Regions from separate parts of the Homo sapiens genome. Here region 1 is linked to region 2. The links come from fine-mapping of genetic effects on gene expression. Tissue or cell type: left ventricle. Region 2 holds a variant in brackets; the other region holds the start of a gene. All regions are shown on one strand. Distances are from middle to middle.

Region 1 (4,388 bases), 21 kb after region 2:
CTCCTCCCACTGTGCATCCAGAAGCCTGGGTGCTCCCGGACACCCCTGCTCCCCACATGCCCATCTCCCACCGTCTGCTTGGTTTTCACTCCTAAACAGTCCTTGGGTGCAGCCACTTGTCGGCATCACCACCACCCTGGGTCATACCCACTCTCGCTCTCCAGTGAGTGCAGCCAGGCTGCTGTTTGCAGGACTTAACTCTCATCCCACCAGCTGTGGCTGCCCAGCTCCTAAAGCAACACTAGGGCCCTGGGTGGGGCCTGCAAAGGCTGCGAACCCAACGCAGCTCCCCCTCTCCTAGCCCGGAGCTGGTTCCTCCTCTGTCCTCCAATGCCCCAGCCTCCTCTCTGCGTGACTGCTATATTACCACCTGACCCCTGCTCCCCGGGGCAGGGACTTTCTTAGAAGAGACTCTCCAGACAGCCAAGCACAATTGGAAGCAGCACCTGCTCAGATCTTCCAAACTGAGGCTTGGTGAGGCCTCCATTGGGAGCACTTCATTGACAAACGTTTGAAATTCTGAAGATGACCTCCGTGGGTGCTGGGGAGGGGACCTGGGGCTTGGCTGAGGCCCTGGCCCTGGTGAGTGAGGCCCTCCGGCTGGGCACCTCTGGATATTGGCTGGGAGGGCACCCAGGGCCGGTTGAGGCCGCAGCTTGCTTTTCGGCCTCTCCTTGCTGCTCCCTCCCCACATGGCCTTGGGCAGGTGACTGCTAATGTCGGTGACCAGGCCAGGCTGCCGCCACCCCCACCCCATTTCCCAAGCCTGGCTGCTGGTGGCAGGGTCTGGTAGAAGTGCTGTGGCCTCCACGCAGGCATCCCTCTCCATGGGATCTCCATGGAAGAGCGTGTGCTGGTGCCTGGGTGTCGGGACCCCATAAAAACCACGGGTGACCCCTGTGCAGGGGCTGGGGCTGCTGGGACTGTGGATGGTCCCCCTAAGCCCCATGAGGCACATTTCCCAGGCATGGCAGCATGGCGGTACCTCTCTGGGGCTGTCCCTTGTGCATGCACTCTTACTCCAGCAGTCTCTGGTCCCTCTACCTTTCTCTAGTGGCCCTCGGGCTGAGAAACCATGAGAGTGTGTCCAAAGCAGGCAGCGGCCTTAAAGAAATGCCAGCCCACCTCCTCCCCACCTAGTGTCCAAAAGAGCTGCATGTTGGAAGCAGGGGTCTGTGCAGCCCTCCCCTCTCCCCTGGTACACCCTACTTGGGGAGCAGATTTGCCTGGGCAGGTCTGCACGGGGTCTGCTCCCTGGCCCAGCAGTCACTGGTGAGACACCCAGCCCTGGCATCCTCTGTTCCTAATTCCCATGAAGGTGCCTTTTGTGGCTGCACCTACTTGCATAAGGACTGAGGCATCGGCCAGGAAAAGACGTCAGGCTTGGCCAGCTCCATCTAGCAAGACACTCCAGGTCACCGGGGAAAGGGCTTTTCACTAAAGCCTCCAGGGAGACTTTGGAACATGAGCAGCACAGCTTGGAGACGAGCCAGCAGAGCACGTGACAGCGAGGAGGCAGCCGTGCACGTCGTCACCCAAGCCCCAGGCCACAGCATCCACGGGAGAGACTTTCCTGCAGCACTGCGTGTTGGGGGTAGGGAAGAGAACAAACTTAATCCTGGGCTGTTACGGGAAGCCCTGACGAGCCCCAGGAATATCAGGGACTGCAGGAAGGGTTCCAGTGTCACTGGGGAACCCGGATTCCCACAAATGCCTTGCTTCCCACAACCCGGCCTCCTGGTCCCACATGCCTCACCTGTTGTTCCAGCCTCTGCACCTGCTCACATCTCTGGGGAGTCACCCGATGGGGCTCCCCAGTCCCCGCAGCAGCATTTTCCTCTGACTCTCAGGGCCCTGCTCTGCCTTCTGTGCTCAGCAGTTGTTTCGGATTGGGAGTCAGGAGGCCATTCCCACACTTGAAACAAGGCTGCAAGAGGAGGCTGAGCAGAAACCGCACACCCCGAGGGCAAGGCGACATGCTCATTGCCCTTGCGCCCTTCCTCCTTCCCCAGGAGCAGGACTTCTGGCCGCTCTGAGTGCACGGGTGACGGCTGCCGTTTATCAGCCTTCAAATTTGTGCCCGAATCACCTGCTTCCAACTCCTCAAATACAGACTGGCTTAGCTCAGCCTGATTAAGACCAAATTAGGAAGGGCAGCTGTGTTCCACCAGAGCCCAGGGAGCCAGGCAGAGGGCAGGAGGATCAGGCCACCAAAGGTCACCTACACACAAGCCCGTACCGGTGATGTCATCGTGGATGGAGGAGATGGGCTGGCATTTTTTAAGGCTGGCCCCCTGCCTGGGACACACTCTACATGTTTCTAAGCCTATGGGCCACTGGGGAGAGCTGGAAGGAGCCAGGCACAGCCACAGGGAGGTGCCACCATGCTTGGGAAACACCTCGTGGGTCTGGGCTGCAAATGACCATCCACAGTCCCAGCCCTGGCAAAGGGGTAGCTCATGGTCCTTATGGGGTCCCGACACCCAGGCACCAGGACACGCTCTTCCACGGATGCAGGTTAGATAAGAAACCACCTTCAGGACTCTCCTACACATCTCTTCACACCTGTGCACAAAGGAATCAGCAAAAGATCCCCTCCCAGCCTGCTGTGACCGCAAAATTCCATACCCAAGACCAGGGCTGCTTAAATAATTTGAGCTCTGCAATGGAAACCTACAAAGCCACTAAAAGCAGCAGAGAACGCTGGTGAGCAGCTGTGAGTGGCAGCTGAGATTCATTACAGTTCCACAGTCGGACTCGGGAAAATGCTTCCGTGTGTGTAGCAGGCTGTGATGCGGTGTGTGGTCCCAGCTGAGGCCCCCACACTGACAGCAGTAAGAGCCGAGTATCTCACATCCTAAAGATGCCGGTCCGTGCCCGAGAGCAGATAGTCTATGAGACCTTAACCGGGGCTGTCCCAGATGCCACTCTGAGCCCTTCTGGAAGGGTGAGTTTGATCAGGGAGATGGCGAGGGAGGAGTCCTTGTCCAGGAGCTTTGGGGACAGTTTGACAGGAGCTTTTGGGATGTCAACCTTGCTCCTACCATGGGGAATGCAGAAGGGGGCTCCCCCCCCCACCTCTCCTCACATCTGCTCCACCTCAGCCCAGATCAGAGGCAGGGAGGAGAGCCTTGAGGAGCCCCGGAGTTGGGTGCACTGACTGGACCCCGCCCTGAGTAGAAGAGGGAGGCTGGCCTGGAGGGGCTGCAGGAGAACAGCAGAGTTGCTCAGCAGGACAAAGGAGACACTGCGGAAGGGGTCTGAGTTCAGGTCATCTTGACTGGTTTCCTCAGCACGGCCCATCATGAGGCAAAACCCTAAACGCTGACTCAAAGTCTGGGAACGGAATGGGCTGTTTTGTCCTTGGCTAGAGCCCTGCCAGCTGTCCCGTTCCCTCTAAGTGCTGCATGCACTGTGGACGTGGCATTCCCTCTAAGTACTGCATGCACTGTGGATGTGGCCTGCCCTCTAAGTGCCGCATGCACTGTGGACGTGGCATTCCCTCTAAGTGCTGCATGCACTGTGGACATAGTGTTCCCTCTGCCTGGTCCTCCTATGTGAAATCCCCTTCCCAGCCAGCCAGCGCCCCCACCTGCACTCCTGGCCCCACCCTTGAGGTCCTTTCTGGGGTGGCTGAGCTCTTCTGCAAGACCTGTGTCCGGGCTTCCCTCCACCACAGCTCAGACCCTCCCAGGGGCCCATGTCCATGTCGGTAGAATGCATGAGGGACGCCCAAGCCCATTCGGTCCCAGATGCCTCCTTCGAGGCAGGGCCGTGTGTGTGTCATCAGCATCACACACTCACACACACTCACCCGCAGGCAAAGCCCCTCCCTGAGCCCAGGAAGGCTCCAAAAGGGGCGTGGTCACAGCCTCCTGCGCCTTCAGGGGCGGGAACCCAGAGGAAGAGCAGCCCACGTGCGGACTCCGCAGGAATGAATGGACACAGTTGGGAGGAGAGGGGAGTTTCTTGGAAGTAAATTCCCCCTGACATTGAGATAACTGGTTCAGGGTCCCATCCACAGAGTACGTGCCTGTTAGCAGGGCAGGAGGCCAGAGGGCGGGGCCTCGGGAAAGCTGCCCAAGCTCAGCAGGGACTCCACTGCTCACAGAGCAAGCAGCCCGACTTGTTCAGCTTGGAATCTGGGCTGGGACCGCTGGGGTCAGCAAAGAAGATCTAGGAGACATCCCATAAAATATCAGACTATCAGGATCCAATATAATACGTGTGATATTGAGCTCATTGCACAGAAGCTACAAGTAAACATTGGGTTTAGGCCACTCAGGGAAAAATGACGGAGCCTCATTTCCATAAGGAGCTGGCCTCATTTGAAAGCTTTCCACCCCACCTCTCGCCTCACCTCCCCCGCGCTCCTTTCTTGCTTCATA
Region 2 (4,388 bases):
TTATTGATTTCTAGTTTGATTCCACTGTGCTTGAAAAAAACACCCTGTATTATTTCAATCTTTTATTTACTAAGTTTTTATTTTAATAGGCCAGAATATGATCTATGTGGCTATATGTTCTGTGGGCACTAGAACGATATGTATTATGCTGTTGCTGGGTAGAGCGTTCTGCAAATGTTAGAGATCCTGTCAGTTGATGGTGTTGTTGAGTTCTTCCATGTCTTTGCTAATTTTTTCTCTAGTTGTTCTATCAATTGTTGAGAAAGGGGTATTGAAATCTCCAAATATAATTGTGGGTGTGTGTGTTTCTCCCTTAGTTCTATCAGTTTTTATTTCACATATTTTTGCAGCTCTTTTGTTTGGTACATGCACATTTAGGATTGCCATGTCTTCTTGTTGGATTAACCCTTTTATAACTGTAATTTCCCTGTCTGTCTTTGGTAATTTTATTTTCTCTAAAGTCTACTTTCTTTGCTATCAACATAGCCACGCCTGGTGTCTTTTGTTGATATTGCATGCAATATCTTTTTCCACTCTTTTACTTTCAACCTACCTGTATCATTAATTTGAAGTGAATTTCTTTTTGAGAACATGTTATTGAGTCATGTTTTCTCATACATTCTGCCAATTTGTTTCCTAATCAATCATCACATCATCTACATTTGACCTAAGTATTGATATGTTGGGGTTTTTATTTTTCATTTCCTGTTACTTCTGTTTTACTTTCTCTGTTTTCTTTTATTTCAAAAGGCTTTGGGGGAACAGATAGTGTATGATTACATGAATAAGTTTTGTTTTTTTTTTTTTTTTTTGAGACAAAGTCTTGCTCTGTCCCCAGGCTGGAGTGCAGTGGCGTGATCTCGGCTCACTGCAAGCTCCGCCTCCCGGGTTCAAGCGATTCTCCTGCCTCAGCCTCCCGAGTAGCTGGGACTACAGGCGCCCGCCACCACGCCCGGCTAATGTTTTGTATTTTTAGTAGAGACGGGGTTTCACCGTGTTAGCCAGGATGGTCTCGACCTCCTGACCTCGTGATCTGCCCTCCTCGGCCTCCCAAAGTGCTGCGATTATAGGCGTGAACCACCACGCCAGGCCATGAATAAGTTCTTTAGGGGTGATCTGTGATTTCTGAGATTTTGGTGCACCCATCACCTGAGCAGTGTACACTGTACCCAATGTGTAGTCTTTTACCCCTCAGCCCCTCCCACTCTTTCCCCCAAATCCCCAAATTCCACTGTATCATTCTTATGTCTTTGTGTCCCCATAGCTTAGCTCCCACTTGTGAGTGAGAACATACAATATTTGGTTTTCCATTCCTGAGTTACTTCACTCAGAATAATGGCCTGCCCTTCCATCCAGGTTGCTGCAAATGCTGAGCATGTCTATGGCTGAGTGGTATTCTATGGCATATACATACCACATCTTCTTTATCCACCTGTTGACTGATGGACATTTGGGCTGATTCCAGATTTTTGCAATTACAAATTGTGCTGCTATAAACATACGTGTGCAAGTGTCTTTTTCGTATAATGACTTCTTTTCCTCTGGGTAGATACCCAGGAGTGGGATTGCTGGATCAAACAGTAGATCTACGTTGGTTCTTAAGGAATTGCCACGCTGTTTTCCACAGTGGTTGTACTAGTTTATGTTCTGACCAACAGTGTAAAAATGTCCCCTTTTCACCACATCCACACCAACATCTATCACTTTATGATTTTTGATTATGGCCATTCTTGCAGGAGTAAGGATGACATTGCGGTTTTGATTTGCATTTCCCTGATAATTAGTCATGTTGAGCATTTTTTCATATGTTTGTTGGCCATTCGTATATCTTCTTTTGAAAATTGTCTGTTCATGTCCTTAACCCACTTTTCGATGGGACTGTTGGTTTTTTTCTTGCTGATTTGTTTGAGTTCCTTATAGATTCTGGATATTAGTCCTTTGTCAAATGTATGGATTGTGAAGACTTTCTCCCACTCTGCGTGTTGTCTGTTTACTCTGCTGATTATTTCTTTCACTGTGCAGAAGCTTTTTAGTTTAATTAAGTCCCATCTATTTATCTTTGTTTTTGTTGTGTTTGCTTTTGGGTTCTTGGTCATGAACTCTTTGCCTAAGCCAATGTCTAGAAGGGTTTTTCTGGTGTGATCTTCTAGAATTTTTATGGTTTCAGGTCTTAGATCTAAGTCTTTGACCCATCTTGAGTTG[A/ATT]TTTTTGTATAAGGTGAGAGATGTGGATCCAGTTGCATTCTTTTACATGTGGCTTGCCAATTATCCCAGCACCATTTGTTGAATGAGGTGTTCTTTCCCCACTTTATGTTTTTGTTTGCTTTCTCAAAAATTAGATAACTGTAAGTATTTGGCTTTATTTCTGTGTGCTCTATTCAGTTCCACTGATCTATATGCCTGTTTTTATACCAGTACCATGCCATTTTGGTGACTATGGCCTTATAGTATAGTTTGAAGTCAAGTAGTGTGATGCCTCCAGATTTATTCTTTTTGCTAAGTCTTGCTTTGGCTATGCAGGCTCTTTTTTTTTTTTGGTTCCATATGAATTTTAGGATTTTTTTTTTCTAGTTCTGTGAAGAATGATGGTGGTATTTTGATAGGAATTGCATTGAATTTATAGGTTGCTTTTTGCAGTATGGTTATTTTCACAATATTGATTCTACCCACCCATGAGCATAGAATGTGTTTTCATTTGTTTATGTCTTCCATGATTTCTTTCAGCAGTGTTTTGTAGTTTTCCCTGTAGAGGTCTTTCACTTCCTTGGTTAAGTATAGTCCCAAGTTTTGTTTTGTTTTGTTTTGTTTTGCAGCTACTGTAAAAGGGGTTGAGTTCTTAATTTGACTCTCAGCTTGGTTGCTGTTGGTGTATAGCAGGGCTACTGATTTGTGCACCTTAATTTTGTATCCTGAAACTTTGCTGAATTCATTTACCACTTCTAGGAGCTTTTTGGATGAGTCTTTAGGGTTTTCTAGGTATACAATTATGTCATCAGCAAATAGTGACAGTTTGACTTCCTCTTTACTGATTTGGATGCCCTTTATTTCTTTCTCTTGTCTGATTGCTCTGGCTAGGATTTCCAGTACTATGTTGAATAGAAGTGGTGAAAGTGGGCATCCTCGTCTTGTTCCACTTCTCATGGGGAATGCTTTCAAATTTCCCCCTTCAGTATAATGTTGGCTGTGGGTTTGTCATAGATGGCTTTTATTACCTTAGGGTATATCCCTTCTATGCCGATTTTGCTGAGGGTTTTAACCAAAAGGGATGCTGGATTTTGTCAAATGCTTTTTCTGTGTCTCTTGAGTGACTATGTGCTTATTATTTTTAATTCTGTTTATGTGGTGTATTACATTTACTGACTTGTGGATATTAAACCATCCCTGTATCCCTCCTGTAAAACCCACTTTGTCATGGTGGACTCTTTTTCATATGCTGTTGGATTCAGTTAACTAGAATTTTGTTGAGGATTTTTGCATCTATGTTCATCAGGGGTATTTGTCTGTAGTTATTTTTTTTTGTTATGTCTTTTCCTGATTTTGGTATTAGTGTGATATTGGCTTCATAGAATGTTTTTGGAGGATTCCCTCTTTCTCTATCTTTGGTATACTCTCAATAGAATTGGTACCAATTCTTTGAATATCTGATTGATAGAATTCAACCGTGAATCTGTCTGGTCCTGGACTTTTTTTTTTGGCAACTTTTTAATCACCATTTCAATCTCACTGCTTGTTATTTGTCTGTTCAGAGCTTCTGTTTCTTCCTGGTTTAATCTAGGAGGGTTGTATATTTCCAGGAATTTACTCATCTTCTCTAGGTTTTCTAGTTTACACACATAAAGATGTTTATAGTAGCCTTGAATGATCTTTTGCATTTCTGTGGGGTCAGTTGTAATATCTCCCCTTATATTTCTAATTGGGCTTATTTGGAATATAAGTCCTCTTCTCTCTTCTTTTCTTGGTTAATATCACTAATGGTCTATCAATTTTATTTATCTTTTCAAAGAACCAGATTTTTGTTTCATTTTTTTTATTGTGTTGTTTGTTTCAATTTCATTTAGTTCTGCTCTGATCTTGATTATTTATTTTCTTCTGCTGGGTTTGGGTTTGGTTTGTTCTTGTTTCTCTTGCTCCTCGAAGTGTGACCTTAGATTGTTTATTCGTGCTCTTTCATGCTTTTTGATGTAGGCATTTAATGCTATGAACTTTCGTCTTAGCACTGCCTTTGCTGTATCCCAAATGTTTTGATAGGTTGTGTCACTATTATCACTCAGTTCAAAGAGCTTTTAAATTTCCATCTTGATATCATTGTTGACCCAATGATCATTCAGGAGCAGGTTGTTTAATTTCCATGTATTTGCATGATTTTGAGGGTATTAAAATATAAGGTACTA

Which allele goes with the higher level. Alleles are on the strand shown, and positions count from the first base shown. SD is a standard deviation of normalised expression in the study named.
As copies of ATT replace A in region 2, the expression in left ventricle of the gene that starts at base 2,146 in region 1 goes up (moderate effect, 0.41 SD a copy in GTEx).

What was found. PIP is the estimated chance that this variant, and not a neighbour inherited with it, causes the effect.
Region 1: it holds the start of LINC02348, and the variant in region 2 is the best candidate, but not a certain one, in a credible set for the expression of LINC02348 in left ventricle (GTEx, PIP 0.57).

The regions. Positions count from the first base shown.
Region 1 is chr15:101,612,194-101,616,581 of GRCh38, forward strand. It overlaps LINC02348 (long intergenic non-protein coding RNA 2348), which reads right to left and starts at 2,146. Exons shown (of 3, transcript NR_147041.1): 1 at 1,757-2,146; 2 at 1,342-1,581. RefSeq lists enhancers at 137-637, 1,456-1,974, 1,975-2,491.
Region 2 is chr15:101,591,498-101,595,885 of GRCh38, forward strand. No RefSeq gene overlaps it. Among named protein-coding and RNA genes, the nearest start is that of LINC02348, 21 kb to the right of the region's middle. The variant A/ATT (reference allele first, on the strand shown) is at 2,203.